2 separate regions of the Homo sapiens genome follow, and region 1 is linked to region 2. Evidence: fine-mapped expression QTL. A gene starts in region 2. The other region holds a variant in brackets. All regions are shown on one strand. Distances are from middle to middle.

The links.
Region 1: its variant is fine-mapped to the expression of ABCA2 in whole blood (TOPMed, PIP above 0.99).

The regions. Positions count from the first base shown.
Region 1 is chr9:137,079,914-137,084,285 of GRCh38, forward strand. It overlaps UAP1L1 (UDP-N-acetylglucosamine pyrophosphorylase 1 like 1), which reads left to right. Exons shown (of 9, transcript NM_207309.3): 6 at 89-229; 7 at 776-961; 8 at 2,085-2,151; 9 at 2,724-4,372. The coding sequence ends at 2,816. Among named protein-coding and RNA genes, the nearest start is that of UAP1L1, 4.6 kb to the left of the region's middle. RefSeq lists an enhancer at 3,499-3,828 and a silencer at 3,606-3,840. The variant T/G (reference allele first, on the strand shown) is at 2,522.
Region 2 is chr9:137,025,842-137,030,213 of GRCh38, forward strand. It overlaps ABCA2 (ATP binding cassette subfamily A member 2), which reads right to left and starts at 2,396. Exons shown (of 49, transcript NM_001606.5): 1 at 2,234-2,396. The coding sequence starts at 2,299. It overlaps LINC02908 (long intergenic non-protein coding RNA 2908), which reads left to right and starts at 1,623. Exons shown (of 3, transcript NR_171031.1): 1 at 1,623-2,070. It overlaps FUT7 (fucosyltransferase 7), which reads right to left. Exons shown (of 2, transcript NM_004479.4): 2 at 4,333-4,372. RefSeq lists a silencer at 2,474-2,653 and an enhancer at 2,537-3,281.

The DNA.
Region 1 (4,372 bases), 54 kb after region 2:
CTGGGTGTGCTCAGAAGTGGGGACAGAGCCCCCAGCGGTGCCATATCTGATCTGTTTCTTTCCTCCCCTCTGCTCTCCCGTGCCCCAGGGAGTTTGAGCCTTTGCTGAAGCCACACGTGGCTGTGAAGAAGGTCCCGTATGTGGATGAGGAGGGGAATCTGGTAAAGCCGCTAAAACCGAACGGGATAAAGATGGAGAAGTTTGTGTTTGATGTGTTCCGGTTTGCTAAGTTAGTAGTAGAACTCATTTATTTTCCCCTTCTTCCTTCTCTCAGTTTTGGTGGTGGGAACTGAGGCGCAGCTGGTAGGGAAGTAGAGGCTTGAGGGAGCCAAGGGCCCCGCGGGCAAGTCTCAGGGAGAAGACCAGAGGGTGCTCTTGGCCCTGAGGGTAAGCAGCCCCTGAGGTGGGGGCATAGGGAGTCCTTGGGGCTGTGGACTTGGGAGGACAGTAGTGCCACCTCCCGGACCTTCCACTGCCCCCACCCATGGTTAGGAGAGGTCTCCTGGCCAGGTTGCCAGGGCGGCTCGCAGGGCCTTTGGCCCTCACTGCAGGGGTCCCAGGGTTGGGCCTTCGGCTGCTGGAAATGGCTGCTGGGATTGGGCCATCCCTGGCGTCTCAGGAGCAAAAACACTCAGTACCTGCGGGGGCTCCTCCCTAGACTTGCTGCCCATGGGACCAGACCTTCACTCTGTCACTGGAAACCTGGCCCAGCTCTCACCTGCCCGGATCAGGGCCTCTGTGCTGGGACGTGGGTGACTAGCCCTTTCCCCACCAGGAACTTTGCTGCCTTGGAAGTGCTGCGGGAGGAGGAATTTTCCCCACTGAAGAACGCAGAGCCAGCCGACAGGGACAGTCCCCGCACCGCTCGCCAGGCCCTGCTCACCCAGCACTACCGGTGGGCTCTGCGGGCCGGGGCCCGCTTCCTGGATGCCCATGGGGCCTGGCTCCCAGAGCTGCCCAGGTGAGTGTGGCCCTGGGGTAGCTACAGCCAGAAGGGGAGGGCTGTCAGGACCCAATCTTCAGCTCCAGAGCCCTGTTGGCTCTGCGACAGCCATGCTGGGGAGGGGTCTTCCTTCCCGGCACCACCGCAGGTGCAGGTAGCCTTGTGCCCAGCCAGCTCCAGGTCACACGGTGACTGTCGGCACAGCCTCCTGGCCCGACCCTTCAAGTTGTGCTCAGTGCACTGAGGGAGGCAGGGGCTCCCCAACTCCCTCCCCAACTTATCCACAAGGTTTTGGTTTGTTTACAAAGGCATACTTAGATTTGGCTTTTATTTATTTATTTTTATTTTTATTTACTTTTTTGAGATGGAGTCTCGCTCTGTCGCCCAGGCTGTAGTGCAGTGGTGGGATCTCGGCTCGCTGCAAGCTCCACCCTCCCCCGGTTTCCGCCATTCTCCTGCCTCAGCCTCCTGAGTAGCTGGGACTACAGGCGCCCGCCACCACGCCCGGCTCATTTTTTTGTATTTTTTTTTTTTTTTAGTAGAGACAGGGTTTCACCGTGTTAGCCAGGATGGTCTCAAACTCCTGACCTGTGATCTGCCCGCCTCGGCCTCGCAAAGTGCTGGGATTACAGGCGTGAGCCACCTCACCCGGCTATTTTTTTATTTTTATTTTTCTTATTTGTATACATTTGTGGGGTGTGTGTGCAACTTTGGTCAGTCAGGTCAGGGCTTTTAGGGGATCCATCACCCAACCAACGTTGTTCCCATTTATTCACAGGCTTTGAAACTGAGCCCCGGGCATGAATTTAGAAAGTAGCAGGACAGTTTGATTTCAGGGCTGGGAAAGAAAAGGACGTTTGGCTTCCATCTCCCTGATTTTCTAGGGCCACCCCTAAATCTAGCTGCCTAGGCTCTGCGTGGGAGGCCTGTGGGGGTGCTTTCTACCCCAAATCAGGTCCTGTCACTTGGCAGTGGGATGTGTGCTCAGGGTTTGGGGTGTCCAGAGGAAGATGAGCTTGCTGAGACAGGAGCTGTGGGGAGCCAGGTGTGTAGAGCTCAGTCTCCTATCGGGACTGGGGGTGCTGGGGGAGGGCTCTGGGCAGGTGCTGCAAGGAGATATTGACAAGTGGACTTTCCCTAGCTTGCCCCCAAATGGAGACCCTCCGGCCATCTGTGAGATATCGCCCTTGGTGTCTTACTCTGGAGAGGTGAGAGCTGCCCATCCCTATCTGGGGCTTTTCTGGTGTCAGGTTTGGAATACCATCTGGGGAGAGGTGGCTGCTCGGGTGGAGACGGCACAGCTCTACCTCGGTTAACCAATGGGGTCGGTGGTTTAAATTTGCAGAAGACTTTCCAAGATATGGGTTGGGGTGGGGTGAGGCATCCAGAGGCCTTTGCAGGTCCTGGGAGGGCATGGGGATGAGACAGCCCAGGTCTGAGCCCAGTGTGGGGCCAGTCAGGCCTTGGTGGGGGCCTTGCGGAGGGAGGACACCGGCCTCTGCTACCTCCCTGACCTCGGCTGCCCTTGCCCCTTTCTCTGGTCAGGTCAGACCTGTGCGTGACAGGAGGGTCCCCTGC[T/G]GGCCTAGGGTCTTGAGTGTGGTCTTGGGTGGCCTTGCAGTGTGTGTCTGCTCCTGGCCCTGGAAGCCTTTCTGTCCCCACCCCTCCCTGACTCCAGGCAGACCTGGGATCGCACCTGGGGACTGTGGCTCTTGGTGTGGCCAGAGGGGCTGTGACCCGCCAAAAGGTGGGTACTTGGCCATTGTCCCCTGCTCGTCTCCAGGGTTTAGAAGTGTACCTGCAAGGCCGGGAGTTCCAGTCCCCGCTCATCCTGGATGAAGACCAGGCCAGGGAGCCGCAGCTGCAGGAGTCCTGACCCGCCCAGACTGTCCCCAGACTCCCCCGAGACCTGCCAGCCCCGGCATCCTGGAAGTCCCGACTCCCCCCAGACCTGCCAGCCCCGGCGTCCTGGAGCTGGGGGCTACAGCCCAGCCTGAGCTCTGGGTGGGAAAGCAGCCTGCCCCATGCTTCCAGCCTGCAGAACACAGAATGAAACATGCTGGTAGACTCCACGAGGGCAGGGCCTCTCCTGTCGCCTCTGGACACAAGTGGCGACAGCCTGCTGGGGGCTCTGTGGCTCCATTCCTGGCTGTGGGGTCTAGTCAAGAGGCAGAGGGACTTGGGACCTGGGAGAATGGGGCTGAGAGGAGGCTTCGGGTTGGGGCCCAAGGGAGGTGTGGTGTCATCTGGGGAGAACAGGAGGGCATGTCCCTTTGGGAGCCCGCCTTGTGGATCCACCACACCCCACCGAGCACTAGAAGCTGCATAAGCTACACAGGATGTGCTTCTGCAGCCTACAGATGCAGAACCAGAATGAGGGGGACAATTCCACCCACTCGAGGGCTGCCCCCTCTTCCTTAGCAGACGAACCAGTAATGGGGGCAAGGCTGGGGCATCCCAGCCCACACACCCTGGATGCCCAGCAAGGCCACAGAAAGAGCCTGATGTCCATGATCCAGGTGGCTCTGAGAAGCTTGGCCTGGACACCTGAGCCTGCGGCCGGTACTCCTGCCTTCTCCCCATCTATCCCCAAGGCCTCTGCCTCTCAGCCTCTTCCATGGTCGGTTTAGGCTGCTGAGTTTTCTGTGCTTCCCCAAGAACCAGTGGGATCAATGCCGGCGGCCTCTGTGATGGTTGCTGACTAATCCGGGATTTCATGAGTCAGAGGCACCACCCCTCACCCCAGCTGCCTGCTGCTTCTGACGGATCTTGGTGCTCAGGCTGCCTGGCTCTCCGAGTGAGGACGCAGCCTCCATATTTGGTGCACTCAGGCATGGCTGGGACAAGCCAGCTGCCCCAGGGTTCTTCCCCTGGTGATTCTCGCCTGCTTTCTCATCTCAGGGGAGGCAGTGGCACCTCCCTCTCCCTGCTGACATGAAGAGAGCTATGATATGCCACTGCTGCCAACTCATCCTCTGCCCCCACCTCGAAACCCACAGTCCCCAGTGGAGGGCCACTACTCATCCCCATTGGTTTCCCAGGGGAGGGGTGTTGTCTGGAAGGGCAGGTTCAGATGCAGCCTTCCAGATTTAGAGGCACTGGGAGGACAGTGGCTGAGTGGAGGCGCCCAGACCTGGGCAGGCAGCAGGCTCAGGCCCACACCTTGTGATTTTTGAAACCAAAGCCCAGAAGATGATGTTTACTTCTCTCTCCCTGGCTCTGCCCTTCTTACTGCAAACCATGCTGTGCCTTAGGGCCCTTCTCATAGCTGTTCCTCATGGCCATGACTGGAACAGGGATGCAACCTCTTTCTACACAAGCACAGTTAGTTGGGTGAAGTCTTTTTTTTTGTTTGTTTTAGACGGAGTTTCACTCTTGTTGCCCAGGCTGGAGTGAAGTGGCGTGACCTTGGCTCACTGCAACCTCCAGGCC
Region 2 (4,372 bases):
TCCTGGCTGGCAGGCGGCGGGCGCCACAGCAGCATCTGGTTACAGGCGGCAGCACAGGTCTAGCACGCCCTGGGTGCCCCACACAGGTGCCTCCAGGTGGCCCAACCTCCGTCCCTCGAGACCAGCCCAGTGCCTTCACATCGCCTGGAGGCCTAGATGCCTTCTCTGGGCATGACCCCTCCCTGTAGCTCCCGCCTACTGTGTCGGGGGGAGAACAGGTGAGACCCGAGGGTGGCGCTGCCATCTGCCATCCCAGTGACTTCATGACAGTGACCCTGTCCCTGCACCAAGAGCAGCCTGTAGCCCAAGGGTAGACCCAAGTCCAGCTAACTAAGAGGAGATAGGCCACACTCACAGACAGGGAAACTGAGGCAAAGAGCTTGGAGGAGCCTGCTAGCAGCACAGAGGTCCTTGGCACCCACCCTCCAGACCCTGAGCTCTGCCCAGGGTGGAGCTCTGCCCAGGGTGCACCCCTGCCCCAGCAGGGCGCATGGCACACAGGGCAAACCTCTGTCATCCAAGCTTGGCCCCAAGAGTCCAGCTCTGATGTCCAAGATCCTTCCCAGGAAAGTGGGGACCCAGCAGGAGTGTGCCCAGTGTCCAGCCAGCCCCAGCCCCACATCACAAGCCTGGCAAGGACTCAGCCTCCCTGGGGGAAACAGTTCCCCACCTGCTCCAGCCATGGGCTAAGGACCTCCACTGTGGCCCAGTGGGCCTCTGGGAGCCCTGTAGGGTGGGGACCCAAAAAGGTCCTGGGGGGCAGCCCAAACCAGCAGCTGGGAGTCACTCTTGCGGTCAGGACAGTGCACACCTCCCACCTGCTTGCCAGCTGCCCTCATAGGCCACACTCCCTTCCCTGAGCATTGTCCCCACTGGAACAGGGGCCACCATTCCAGCCTCTGCTCCCAAGCCCAGTGGGGACCTTCCTGACAACCACCCCCGGGGACTAATACTAATGCATGCCACATGCCACATCCCTGTTCCCTTGGCCCTGCTCTGCTGTCCCCAGTGACTCAATGCCAGGGGCTGCAGGCCTGATCCATGGGACCCCACTCAGCCAGCTCCAGGTGCCTGGCCAGGGCATGTACCTAACCCAGGCTCCCCGCCAAGGCCAGGTGCCCAGGGGAATTCTGCCAGCCATGGTGATGATGGCCACCCCAGCTGACTGCAGCCTGGGTTTCCTGCAGTGCATGTTGAAAGATAAACAGGCACGGACTGGTGCAGCCCAAGGGGTCCCGCCCGGGCCCTGGCTGGGCAAGAGGATGTCTGCCTTAGGCCCCCACCTGCTCTGAGCCCTGGCCTGGACAATCCCAAGGGCCTTCAGAAACCTAAGCTGGTCCAGGCCTGTGGCCTGGGAGGTGTCCCTTCCCTTCCCAGGCTGGAGCCAAGCTGGCCAGCTGGGGGTATGGCAGGACACCCATATCCCCAAGCCCCTCGCTCCACGAAGGACTTCTGTCCCTGACAGCCATGTGTCCTGCACCCTCAGGTCCACTGGCTGCCCAGGCAGTGCTGGGAAAGCCGGGGTTCACAGCTCCAAACAGTAGACCCAGCCCCCAGAGCAGGTGGGGGGACCAGGAGGCAACAGAGTGGATCAGGCTCGGGGAGAACTGACCCCAAAGGACAAATGGGTGCAGAGATTCAGGCTGGCCAAGGCTGGCACAAGGACATTCCCAGTGGCGAGAGCATGAGCAAGGGTCACGGATGTGCCAGGAGGGGAGGCGGAGAGATGCCTGGGACCAACCTCTATGGCAGGCCGCGGCCCAAGGGCAGGGGAGGGGTGGACGGAGGGAAGGGACAGGGTCTCCTCCGGGACCCCAGGGAGGCTGGGCCCAAGGACCATGGAGCCTCGCAGCTGAATGGAGCCCCCCAGGCCTGCCTTCTGTCCTGGGAACCAGGGCCTCCCTCGAGCCAGAGTCCTGAGCGCCGCTTGCCCCCCGCCCACAGCGGCCCCAGCGAGCGCGCTGCAGAGGGCGCGGGTGCCGTGACTCAGCCGAGCACCGCGATGTCAGCGGACGCGGGACCGGACTGGACACGACCGAGCCACCTCCCCGGAGGCCGCAGCGCCGGCAGGCGAGGGCAGGGCCCGGCGGGGAGGGGGCTCGGGCCCGCGCCGCCCCCAGCGCCCGCCGGGGTCTGCGCGCGCCCGGCCGTCCGCACGTGCGCGCGGGGAGCGCGCCTCTGGCCGCGGTGCGCGCGGCCTCGGGCTGAGGGCGGGCGCGTGGGGTGGGCTCACCGGGCTCCGGCGTTTGAGCGTCACGTTCTTCCAGAGCAGCAGCTGCAGCTGGTGCAGGAAGCCCATGGCGGGGCCACGCTCCGCCGCCTCAGCGCCGCGGCCCGCTCCTCTGCGCGCCCCGCCGGGCCCCGCAGCCCGCCGCGCCGCTGGGCATCGCCCGCGCGGGGGCGGGGCGCTCGGGCGTCCGGGACCCGATCCGCGCTGGCTCCGCCCCGGCGGCCGCGGCGACAGCGACTCTGCCCGCGCCCCGCCCGCCCCCGCTTAAAGGCGCCGCGCTCCGTCCGCGCCCGCCAGGAGGCGCCCGCCGCCCGCGCCGCGCCCGGGACCGACCCGGGCCCGAGACCCTGCGCGCGCCGCCGCCGGGAAGCCTCCGGGCCGCCCCTCGCCGGGCGTCACGCGACGCGCCCACATCGAATCCGAGACCCCGGCTTAGCCTTCGTAGGCCGGGGGACCCTCGGGCGCTGCGCTCTTCTCCCAGAGGCATCCGGCTGCGCCCACCGCGCTGGCGACTCTGCAGAGGCGCCCCAAGCCTTCACTGTCCCCGGGGCGCGCCGAGCGGACGCTGGCGAGGGGCCAGCTCACCCCCGTAAGGGTCTCCTGTGTGCTTTGTAAACCAGCACTTGGAGTCCAGGTGGTGCCCACCTGGAAGGGAGGCAGGGCGGCCAGGTGGGTCCGTCCCGCGATTCCGAGCAGCCAGCGGAAGGGGGGAAACTCGAGGCCCCAGGAACGCTCGCCGTGAGCGGAGCAGGCAGGGGACCGAGGCGGCCCCTGCTGCACGCGGCTCGTTTTTCTCCCCATATTCGGGCGAGTCTGGTCTCTGCACAGGGAGTTCGGGATCAGGCGGTTCTGCGGCTGTGGCTTGGCACCTGCTGGGGCGCCCCGGGAGGTGGGGCAGTTCCTCCGCGTGGCCTGTAGAGAGCGACAGAGGACAGGCTGACCCCATGGGTGGCTCTGACGGCGCTTCCCAGACTCAGTTTCCCCCCTGTGAATGGGGTGGAGTAGCGCTGTGTGGTGTCCAGTGTCAGGGCGCACATAGAAGGCGCATCCTCAAGTGAATGAAGACCTCCGAGGCCACAGCTCCCCACTCCTCCCAGCTCCTTTGCAGCAGGAAGGTGACCCTGGGCTAGTGAGTGAGGGATCAGCTTCCCACCCCAGCCCGCAGCCTCAAGGCACTTGCTTTTCTCTGCTCAGTCCACAGGGCTGGGTCAGGGCAGGAAGCTACCAGCAGGTCTTTCCCACAAGCCACAGCCATGGGTGAGGGGGGCTTCCTGCCCTCAACCTGCCCACCCCTACCTGGGGTAGGGACAAGCCCTGTGCCCCAGCCCCGGGGGCTTAGCCTGTTGGGGCCCTGGTCAGCACCACCCGTGGGTTGGCCTCTCTCCTCCTCGCCCCACTCTCCACCGTCCACTACAGGGGCTCCCTGGCTGCAGCCGCATCCCCAGTGCCTCCCCAGCACTGGCCACCAGAGGGAGCTACAAGGCACAGGTCAGACCCTGTCACCCCAGACACCCTCCAGCCTGCGGGCCTGGGAGATGGGCGATTTCAGCCTGGCCAGGCCTCTGACGTCCGTTCCCTACTCTTCCCCAACCTTGGCCTGTTTTGGTTTTTGTTTTGAGACAGGGTCTCATTCTGTTGCCCAGGCTGGAGTGCTGTGGTGTGATCACGGCTCACTGAAGCTTCAACCTCCTGGGCTCAAGCCATCCTCTCACCTCAGTATCCCAAGTAGCTGAGACCACAAGCGTGAGCCACCACGCCCTGCTAATTCTTGTATTTTTGGTAGAGATGAGATTTCACTACACTGCCCAGGCTGGTCTCGAACTCCTGGGCTCATCGCCTTGGCCTTTTGGGGGACACAGAAGGCTCTCTGATAAGGGGCCGTCTGGCGGAGGCTGTAGGAACTGGGGTAGCCAGTGGGCAGCCCGGCACAGGGAGGGCTCTCAGGCGGAGGGTGAGCAAAGGCCCAGAAGTCAGGCGACAGGACCCCCCGTGGGGAACAAGCAGCCCCATGGCCGTGGGGGCGACATGTCAGGGGAGGGCAGATGCAGGCTCTGTGGCCCTGCACGGAGGTGACCCATGAGACACTGGCCAGACCCACGAGGCACTGCTCAGATGTTTATTGTCCACCGCCCTCCCTCCCTG